3 linked regions of the Homo sapiens genome follow. The protein of the gene in region 1 interacts with the protein of each later gene in a biochemical or structural test. Each region holds a gene or a part of one and is shown in the gene's direction. Other genes may lie near its edges.

What was found.
Region 2: the proteins of SNAP25 (region 1) and TRIM9 form a complex in vitro, tested with the Homo sapiens proteins (one study listed by BioGRID).
Region 3: the proteins of SNAP25 (region 1) and SYT3 form a complex in vitro, tested with the Homo sapiens proteins (one study listed by BioGRID).

Annotation. Positions count from the first base shown.
Region 1 is NC_000020.11:10,302,303-10,305,958, forward strand, and holds part of SNAP25 (synaptosomal-associated protein 25), read left to right. Parts: intron 1-3,656.
Region 2 is NC_000014.9:50,994,019-50,997,674, reverse strand, and holds part of TRIM9 (E3 ubiquitin-protein ligase TRIM9), read left to right. Parts: exon of another isoform or gene 1-1,611; intron 1,612-3,656. UniProt on the Homo sapiens protein: E3 ubiquitin-protein ligase which ubiquitinates itself in cooperation with an E2 enzyme UBE2D2/UBC4 and serves as a targeting signal for proteasomal degradation.
Region 3 is NC_000019.10:50,633,308-50,636,963, reverse strand, and holds part of SYT3 (synaptotagmin-3), read left to right. Parts: intron 1-3,656. UniProt on the Homo sapiens protein: Ca(2+) sensor involved in Ca(2+)-dependent exocytosis of secretory vesicles through Ca(2+) and phospholipid binding to the C2 domain.

The DNA of each region.
Region 1 (3,656 bases):
GGCTGATTCTTTAGCAGTCCTCACATTCTTCTATCAGTGAGAAAACACAGCATTTGAGAGCTAAGACTTTGAGTTCTAACAGGGTTTTGCCATTCACCAGCTCTGTGACCTGATTGCCTCACCTGAAGGATAGTAAGAGAACTGTTCAAACCTAGGATCAGAACAGGCTGGAAGTATGAACTGGGTTCTAAAAGTCACCTGGCATGGTCTGAAGTTGAAGAGATTCCCGGAGCGTTCAGAAGATGGGCTGAACAGCTCCTTCTAAACTTTTACTGGCTCTTTGGTGGTCATCCTGGCCTTCTCACAAGGACAAACATGTAACATATGTTGGGCACTCCAGCAAATTTAGAATTTTCTAAATAGAAATATAAAAATTGGAATGGGACAGCCATCATAAATAAAGTCCTACAGCATATAAGTAGGGTGATCATAGGGGCATTCTCCAAATACCAGGAAGACATCTACAAGGAGATTCCAGACTTTTTTTTTTTTTTAAAAGAAGCTAATTCTTTTATATAATAAAGGGGCAGTACTTTCTGTGTCAAATATTGCATGGGGTGGAATTTTCATATGCTTCAGAAGTAAGTTAGGTGGAAATCACAGATGCTCATTGAACATAAGTCTGTTTCAGCTCCTCCCAGATCCTTTAAGGATATACAGAGTAACCTCATGCTCTACTTCAAATATCCCCAGGTGAAGGCCCCTCAGTGCATTCTTGTACAGGAGATCCTAGAATGTTTGCGCTCAGGAATGCCATCATTTTAAAATGAATTATTTTTCTCATTTGAGCTTTTCAGAGCATTTAGTCTGGCAACATAATAATTCAATCTACAGGAACATTTCACATTGCTCTGATCCTGTAACTTTCCTTTGCACTGAAGTGTCATTATTTCTGATACCATTTGTAGCTGGAAAGGGAGGGCTTAAGAACCAAGTAAAATTGGTGAGATTATCCATTTTCCAATTGAGAAACCTGAGGTCAAAAATGTGAGTCTGTAGTTCAAAACAATCAAAATCAATGCCCTATCTTACTATGTAAATACTGATTTTAAAAGACAAGTGTCAATTATCCAAACAGATGACAGAGAACCATTGCCAGGTATTCAAAGTTATGATTAATCTGGAAATATGTTTGTTTTAACTTTGCAAATTTCTATTTGAACATGGATAATTCTAATGTCCTGAGAATTCACGATATGAACTGAATACAGAAGACTCAGCTCAATAAAAATTGGGAAGTACAGCACCACAATAGGTACAAAGCTGGTAATCATTGAGTGATACTGGTTGAGAGAAAAACAGTTTGGTTTCCCCACACTGCCTGGCAGCCTCCTCCTCTTCTTCCCAGGCTGTAGAAGGATAGACAGCATTACCAGTCAGGGAAGGACAAAAGAAAAGCCTCCATAGAATCGTTGTCTTCACCTCTGGTTGCTGATGCATTTTTCTCAGTGGTGATGGGAATCATTCATTTTCTGGAATTTAAAGATTTATGCTGGTAGCAGCCCTAGGTTTCATGCTGCATATACAGCAAACATAACCCAAGCAGTAAAGAGATCAACCAAGAGATTAAAGCCAGCCAGTTACAAAATCATAGTAAATGTGCATCTGTTAAAGAAAAGACAGTTATTAAACTCATAGAAATGAATCTTCAGAAATGCAACTTAAAAACTATTAAGCATCCCAGAAGCAAGCCAAGTTCTCATACGGTAACAATAATTGCAAGATAAACTAATGAGCCCTTCGTTTTGCAAAACATTATTCCAAGCACATTATGTGTATAAACTCATTTGATCTCAGCAAATTGAATAGTAAGTGATGAATAGTGTGGACTCTGACTCCAGGTTGCTAGCATTCAGACTCTGGTTTCTCCATTTATTAGTACTAAGACTTCAGACAAATTCCCCAGATCGTTTCTGACTGCTTTTCTCATTTGGAAAAGTGAGCTAATAATAGTACACACTTTATAGTTGATATTGTTAATCTTGATGTTGTCAAAGTTTAATGAGTGGAACAAAGTACAGTTGACCCTTGAACAACATGGAGATTTAGGGTGTCAACCCCCATGCAGCTGAAAATTTTTTGACTCCCCCAAAATTTAACTACTAGTAGCCTACTGTTGACTGGAAGCCTTAATGACATAAAAAGTCCATTAACATCTATGTTTTATGTATTATTTACTGTATTCGTATGATAAAGTAAGCTGGAGAAAAGAAAATGTTATTAAGAAAATCATAAGGAAGATAAAATACATTTATAATACTATGCTGTATTTATTGATACCATCAGTTTATATCATTTGTTTACAAGATGAATCATCAGTCTGAAATCTTCAGTACACATTAAGCAATTCAACTTTTTCTTGAAATGTCGTGACTTTTTTTTGCTTTTTGGGAGCACTGCTAGCATCACTGGTGGCACTTTGTATGGGTGCATGATGTTATTCAAGGTTTACAGTATTGCACTAAACATGATTTTTTTTAAATGTGAAACTGCAAGAGATCACTTTTTACTGCACTATGCAATTTACTGGAGAGATGGTGAGGATGATTAGTATCACAGAGCATTTTAAACGGATGCTCACAACACTTGAGTTCACCACAATAATAGGAGGTGGCTATGAAATTATTAGAGTAGTACAGTATGGACTACAGTTAATTTTATACAATTATGATTTAATACTTCACCTTTACATTTCTCTCAACTGCAAATAGGCCCATGTATGGTCTATATTTGTTTAAGTCTCATCAATTTTAACTTTTCATAGTAGATTTATATGTATTTTATGATAGTAAATAATAGACTAGACTAGTATCTACATATATTTTATCCATTCATGACATGCCTAATTTTTTCTAAATTTTCTCAATATTTCTAAGTAACACATTCATCTGCAAGTTTGTCTTAATTGTTGCAAATCTCCAAAGCATTTTCCAGTGTATTTATTGAAAAAAAATCCTGGCCAGGTACAATGGCACATGCCTGTAATCTCAGCATTTTGGGAGGCTGAGGAGGGAGGACTGCTTGAGCCCAGGAGTTTGAGACCAGCCTGGGCAACATAGTGAGATCTCATCTATACAAAAAATAGAAAAATTAGCCAGGCATGGTGGCATGCACCTGTGGTCTTAGCTATTTAGGAGGCTGAGATGGGAGGCTCAGTTGAGCCCAGGCAGTCAAGGGTGCAATGAGCTATGATCACACCGCTGTTCCCCAGCCTGGGCATCAGAGCAAGACCCTGTCTCAAAAAAAAGGAAGAAAGAAATTCACACAAAAGTGGATCCACACCATTCAAACCCATGATGTCCAAGGGTCCACTGTACATGCTCATGCTCATTAGCAATATTTTTTATCATCCAGGTTGGAGAAGAGAAAGCTGAGCCCCCAAGATGTAATTTGTTCAAAGGGACACTGCTAATAAATTAGCCATGGTTTCAATCCTACAGTATAAGAAGTGTAATTCAACTTGGTCCAACAGATGTGAATGCCTACCACAGAAGTCATTGAGTGTCTTTCTAGGATAGAAAGATAAATCATATATAAGCCTACGCTCTCTGGTAGGGAAAATTATTAAAAATGAAAATTAAAAAAGCAATGATTCTGAAAAAATATATTCGTTCATTAAAAAAAAAAAATGAAAATTAAGCTTCTACGGTCACATT
Region 2 (3,656 bases), on another chromosome or scaffold:
GCCCAGATGATTCTAAATTACTCTGTAGTACTTGCTTGTTCTGAGGGTGGGACCTAGGTTCTTTCCAGTCGTGGATTTGTATGACTGAATGTGTTTCAAATGGGTGGTGGGGTGCTAGAGCTGTTTAGAGAGGGCCTGTTGGCTGCTCCTGGCTTACCCACTTAGACTGCCTCCGTTTCATACCCAAAGCGGAGGCCGTCAGCACCAGGATTGAGACTTCCTGTGGGCACCAAACAGGAAGAGACCAGCAACTTCGCATTACCCGCCATTTTCATCTTTGCCAGTCCCTTCAGTCTTGGCTAGGCTACCGAGAGCCACCATACAAGGTTCATCTCTAGAGAATTTTTGCTTCTTAGCTATACTTTAAATATTTTGGTCATCAAAGACAAGTAATGTGTCTCAGATGAGAGGCTTGAATTTGATGGCCAGATATAACCTCTGAGGCTTTTAACATTTTCATTTTAAGAGTAAGCAAGACACATGAAATTAAACCTACAAGGAGGTATTTGTGGCTGGTGCCAAAGCATTCTGACACTTTGGGGTGTCATTTTAATCAAAGAAATCACCCCCCCACCTCACCGGGATTCTCCATAACTTCCCTCTGCAGAACTAATTATGTTGATTTTGTTCAAGTTCAAGATGTTAGCTAAAAGAACTATGGTGGTGTTTTTTTTCCCACTTCCCACAAACCTCAACATGTGCCAGTCACCCTAAAATGCTTCACATGGTTAAAAACAAGCACAATTTTGAATCCTACAGCAAGGATGAAAGGCCCCTAGCCGTGAAAACAGTGCTTTGGGGAGCAGTTGTCAGTCTAAGTGATGCTATTCCAAGAGAAGGATATGCTGAGGGAAAATGCCCACATGACCTGTTCCCATTTGGAGTACAGTGATGTGGTAGCTACAGCTTCCCCCAGAATTATCATTTTAGCACCTTCTCTCAGGGATGACCTATCAGTTTGAGAGCAGTTGCCTCTTTTCTCAAAATACCATACTAACTGCTAAAGCCCTCCAAGAGTCTTTCCTAGATGCAACGCAGAAGGCCCTTGCTGGTGATGGCCTCATTTCCCATGTGTGTACAAGGTGGTTTGATTGAAGAGTGAAGTGCATGCCTGCAGAGCAGAGAGAAATTTGTAGCAATGTTGCTAATATGTGTTATCAGATCTGCGGGAAAACTATTTCTATTCATAATACATCATGGGAATCATACTATTCTGGTAAAAATCAGTTATTAGCATAACAGCCTGAGCACTTATGTCTCTCGTTTCATCCTGCAGGAGGATGTAGCGCCTCAGTTTATTTTAATGTTCATAAGATTATGGTGTCTAATTTAATAAATTACAGGATTGGAACTGCGATCCTTGGTACCACAGTCACAGAACTGGGGGTCATTTTCTAGATGAAACAAACGGAACAAGTTCTCTTCCAACAAAGAAACTGTACTGTAGAAATTAATTTCCTCCATGAATTTTATATATTGTGTACAAATATAAGGTATGTATCTGAATACAAAGAAAAGCCTATCATCATATAGATATCAGTATTCTCTGTTACTGCACAGAAGTAATTTTCTCATGATGAAATAAAGTTCACACACATACTTTCTCCATAACTTTGGTTTGTTCTATTTGTTTCTCCCTCATTCTAATACATTCAGTGAGACAAGATTTAGAAAGCAAGAAAAAATATAGTGAATAGCTTATTTTAAAAAAAAAGATATGATCGATCTGTAACAATAGACAAAGCCTATAGGATCAAATAATTATCTCTTTTTTGTTTGTTTTTTAGAAATCAGTGAGAAAAATGCTATTAACAGAGTTTTGGTACATTCACTGCACTTATGCTTTATTAATCTTATTTCCTACAGTTTCCAGAAAGGTTTGCTTTAGAGATTTTTTTTTTCTTTGCTGGTATTGGGGGTGGTGGGGTGGTGCGTTCTGGCTTTCTAGTGTAACAAAATCTTTCACCTTCTTCTTAGCAAGAGTTAATCCCTTTTCAAACTTCAAAACAAAAATTCTGTATCACAGAAAGGTAAAATTTCATATGCGGTAACAAGTCTAACTTGTAATCACATGCATTTAGTCTGAGGTTTAAATTGCTCATCTTTTGTACTCTGTGAGCTTTCACAAAACCTTTTGCTGATCTAAAGGTAACGTTATGCAGGGGAGATCAAATGTCTACATTACTATAAATTTTGATTGGTTTTTTCTTCGAAAGCAAATTTATCTGTCTATTTATTGGGCAGTGCTTGATAAGTGACCACTGTGTGCTAGGCTGTGGGTATAGAGTGTTGAACAGACGTTATCCCTACTGTCCTGGAGTTTACAAGCTAGAAAAGGAAACAAGCCTTAGAGAAATAAACATATAAATAGTTCCATTTTTACACATTGTGATAAACACTGAAAAACAGGGAAAAGGGATTAGCAGGAAGATAAAATTTTTATAGGAGAATTAGGAAAGCAATAAAAATTAATTAAATTCAATGGAAATTATAAAGAACATGCTATTAAGAGAAAAGGAAAGGAGTCAGGTGCCGTAGCTCATGCCTGTAATCCCAGATACTTGGGAGGTTGAGACGGGAGGATCCTGTGAGCCCAGGAGTTTGAATCCTGCCTGGGCAACATAGTGAGACCCCATCTTAAAAAAAAGAGACAGAGAAAAGGAAAGGAGAATGCATTATTATATGAGTCCAAGTGTGGATAGTTCTCTGAAAGCAAAGTTCCTGGAGATGTATCAAAGACACCCATGGAAAAAACGCCAGTTGCACATCTAAACCAAATTACACTGACTTAAGATGAAATATAACTGTAAGCAATTAAGAATTTTAATGAAATTTTCAAATAAGGCCCCCAAGCCCCAAAACTTGGTCATGGGTATCTTTAAATTAATTCATCTAATAGCCATCATGGCTGTGCCAGTCTTTGAAACCATCTGCAAAAGAGTATCTGTTGAAAACATTACACAGCAAGGCCATCTTAATACACAGAGTTCTAAGGTTTATGCTATGTGTGAGACAAGCTGTACTCCTGTTTTAAAAAATCATACAGGGCTGAGAACAGGATAGGACATTTTCTGTTTATTTTTCTCTAGTTTCCCTCTTCCTATCTAAGTAGATTCTGCCTACAAAGTCTATTTAGGTAGGGGCTAGACATCTGACTTTGTAGGACAAAGTCTATCTATTTAGTCTATTTAGATAGACTTTGTGGCTACAAAGCCAGACATGTAGCATCTTCCAATCTCTTTCTGACCTTTCTACCTTCCTTTTTTTTGAGACAAGGTCACACTCTGTCACCCAGGCTGCAGTGCAGTGGCACAATCATAGCTCACTGCAGCCTCCTACACCTGGGCTCAAGGAATCCTCCCACCTCAGCCTCCTGAGTAGTTAGGACTACAGGCATGTGCCACCATGTCTGGCTAATTTTTTAAATTTTTTGTAGAGATGTGGTCTTGCTGTGTTGCCCAGGTTTGTCTCAAACTCCTGGCCTCAAGTGATCCTCCTCCCTTGGCCTCCCAAAGTACTGGGATGACAGGCATGAGCCACCATGTAGCCCCTACCTGCCTTTGATAAGGATCCTTGTGATTACCTTGAGCCCACCTGGATAATCCAGTATAATCCCCCCATCTCAAGATCCTTAATGTAATCACCTCTGCAGTGTC
Region 3 (3,656 bases), on another chromosome or scaffold:
TTCAAGTCCCATCTCCCTCACTTTATTAATAACTGCATGGCTGTAGGTAAGTGACTCTTCTTCTGGGACTCAGTCTCCTCATCTGGAAAATGGGGATAATAAAAGGGATGCTTCATAGAGCAGATGAAAGACTTAAATGATATAACACCTACGAAGAACTTAGAACAATGCTGGGATTCACTTACTGAGCACCAACTGTGGTCCAGGCAGCATGCGAGGTCCTCTGCACATCTCAATGATTACTCACAGTGACCCTTTGTGGAACATATAATCCCCATTTTCAACAGAGGAAACTGAGGCTGAGAAGGGTGAAGTGACCTGTCCAAGGTCACACAGCTAGAAAGCAGCAGGGTTCTGGGAATGAGGAAACATTATGAGTGCCATTGTCCAGATGAGGAAACGGTGACCAGAGGAAGCATGTGCTGAGTGATTACAACCACAGTCACACTTGCTGAGCACCAGGGCAGGGTCTGGCACCTCATGTGCAGGATGTCCAGGTGACAGTCATGAGGGATAAGGCCGAGAGAGCAGCAGTCACTTGCCCAGAGGCTCAATGGTAGCAGAGGCAGAACTGAATCCTGCATAGTCTAGTACAGCACTGTAGTCTGGAGGTGCCCATGACCACCCTCAGGTTCAATGATTTGCTAGAATCATTGACTCACAGAACTCAGGAAACTGTTTTTGTTTGTCTGTCTGTTTGTTTTTGAGATGGAGTTTCACTCTTGTTGCCCAGGCTGGAGTGTAATTAATGGTGGGATCTCGGCTCACTGCATCCTCCACCTCCCAGGTTCAAGTGATTCTCCTGCCTCAGCCTCCAGAGTAGCTAGGATTACAGGCGTCTGCCACCACGCCCAGTTAATTTTTTGTATTTTCAGTAGAGACAGGGTTTCATCCTGTTCGCCAGGCTGGTCTCGAACTCCTGACCTCAAGTGATCCACCCGCCCCAGCCTCCCAAAGTGCTGGGATTACAGGCATGAGCCACCACGCCTGGCTGGAAACTGTTATACTCATGGTTATGGTTTATGACAGTGAAAGGATACAGACTGAAGTCAGCAAAGGGAAGAGGCACCCAGGGCAGAGTCCAGGACAGACCAGGTGTGAGCTTCCAGTCATCCTCTCCCAGTGGAGTCACATGGACAGTGCTTAATTTTCCCAGCAACGACATGTGACAGCATGCACAGTCTATTACGAACCAGGAAAGCTCACCTGAGCCTTGGTGGGCAGGGTTTTTATTGGGGGTCGGCCTCATATACGTGACTGATTGCTGGTGTGGCTGACTTTAGTCTCCAGCTCCTCCAGAGGCTGAGCTGGAGGCCTCCAGCATATATCACAGTGTTAACATAGACTATGCCACATGATCCAAGGCCCCAGGTAAACAAAGACACTCTAATCAGGCAGGACATTCCATGGGCTTAGAGGTTCCCTCCCGGGAGCTGATCAAGGGCCAAACCTTTCTCTGGGCAAGGTGAATCTTCTACTGCGCAACTACACCACCTCTCCACGCCCAAATAACTCCCCAGTCTGTGCAGACAGGAATGGGGAATCTGTCAGGGTTTGTGGGATTCATGTTTTGAGTTGGACAGGGTCTGAATCAGGCTGGCGGTAGGGGAAAGCATCTGTTTAATTTTTCTCCACAATGACCCTGTTTTCTCAACTCAACCTGTGTTCAGGAGGCTCATAAAGTCCTTGCCTCTGGTTTCTAACAGGCCACCCAGAATGCTCAGTGAGTGTTGGTCACTTAAAAAGGAGCACTCTGGGCCAGGTGTGGTGGCTCACACCTGTAATCCCAGCACTTTGGGAGGCTGAGGTGGGCGGATCACAAGGTCAGGAGATCAAGACCATCCATGGTAAAACCCTATCTCTACTAAAAATACAAAAACAAAAAATTAGCTGGGCATGGTGGCAGGCGCCTGTAGTCCCAGCTACTTGGGAGGCTGAGGCAGGAGAACGGCATCAACCCAGGAGGTGGAGCTTGCAGTGAGCCAAGATCACACCACTGCACTCCGCAGAGATCACATCACTGCACTCCAGCCTGGGTGACACAGCGAGACTCTGTCTCAAAAAAAAAGAGAAGGAGCACTCTGGCCAGGCATGGTGGTGCATGCCTGTAATCCCAGTACTTTGGGAAGCCGAGGTGGATGGATCTGAGGCCAGGAGTTCAAGACCAGCCTGGCCAACATAACAAAACTCCGTCTATTCCAAAAATACAAAAATTAGCCAGGCATGCTGGTGCCCACTTGTTGTTCCAGCTACTCAGGAGGCTCAGGCACAGGAAGTGCTTGAACCTGGGAGGTGGAGGCTTCAGTGAACCGAGATCATGCCACTGCACTCCAGCCTGGATGATAGAGCAAGACTCTGCCTCAAAAAAAAAAAAAAAAAAAAAAAAAAAAAGCACCCCAAGAGGGAGGGGGGAAGGAAACCCAGAGTTCTTCTGCCAGTGCCTGGTATATGTCCCTGCAGGGCCACTTCCTCTCTCTCAGAGCCTGTTTTCTCATCTGTAAAATGGGATAAGTCATTCCAAAGTTATATAATGTCATAAGGATTAATGTCACACACCACTGTAGCTTCACTAAGCAGTACAGGACCAGAAGGCAACCCCTTCCTGCTGTGTGTCCCCTAATATAACTGGACACAGCCATTCCACTCAGCTGTCCTTGCCGGCAATGGCCTAGCTACCTGCTTCCCCACCATAACCCACTGTCTGTCAGGAGTAGGGATTTTCCCTGTCTTTCACTTTGTCAACACCCAGAAGTCCATTTCAAAACAAATTCCCATTCCTTGAAGGTCATTTCTGAAAAACCCCACTCCTGGTACCAATTACTGAAGAAGCCTAAAACCTTTGATTGTAAGAACAATTCTGTACTTGGGTTTCTCTGCAAGGCATATCAGCACATATGTGGCATTCAGAATGTGTTAGCTATCTTGTTGATGGTGTTGGACGCACATAGTGGCAGCAATAGGATTTATTATTCTAATAAAAATTCACATTTGAACTACCATTTATTGGGAAGCGTTGAGGTGTGATAGCATCATAGTAAAGACCATGGGCTCTGAAGCCAGGCTTCCCAGACTTAAATCCTGACTCTACCACCTACCAGCTATGGACTTTGAGCAGGTAACTATGGGTATACAGACCTCAGTTTTCTTTTGTGGAAAACAGGGATAAATATGTTGCCAACCTCATGTAGTGCCTGGCAGGCTTAAATAACCTGATCTCTATAAAGTACTGAGCTATTTGGTATGTAATCACCCCTCAAGATATGTTTGTTATTATCTTCCACATGTGATTTACCTTCTGCATTCCTTCAAACTACTGTAAGAGGGAAGAACTGATTTTTCCTACTTGGAAAATGGGAAATGTAAGGTTCAGAGTGGTCAAGATATGTTCCCAAGGCCACACAGCAAGCGTGATTTAAACCCTGCCCTGCCTAACTGTGTCGTGCAGGGTCCATGCTTCCTTGACCATCTCTGAGCATTTTGGAGGACCTTGGTGCTACCTCACATGTTGTGTTCTATTATAGAGAGGCAGCAAAGTCTAGTGATTAAGAGAATAAAATCTGGAGAGAGACTGCTGGATTCAAATCTCAGAACTGTCATTTATTACTTGTAAAACCTTAAACAAATCACTGAATCTCTCTGTGTCTCAGTTTCCTCAT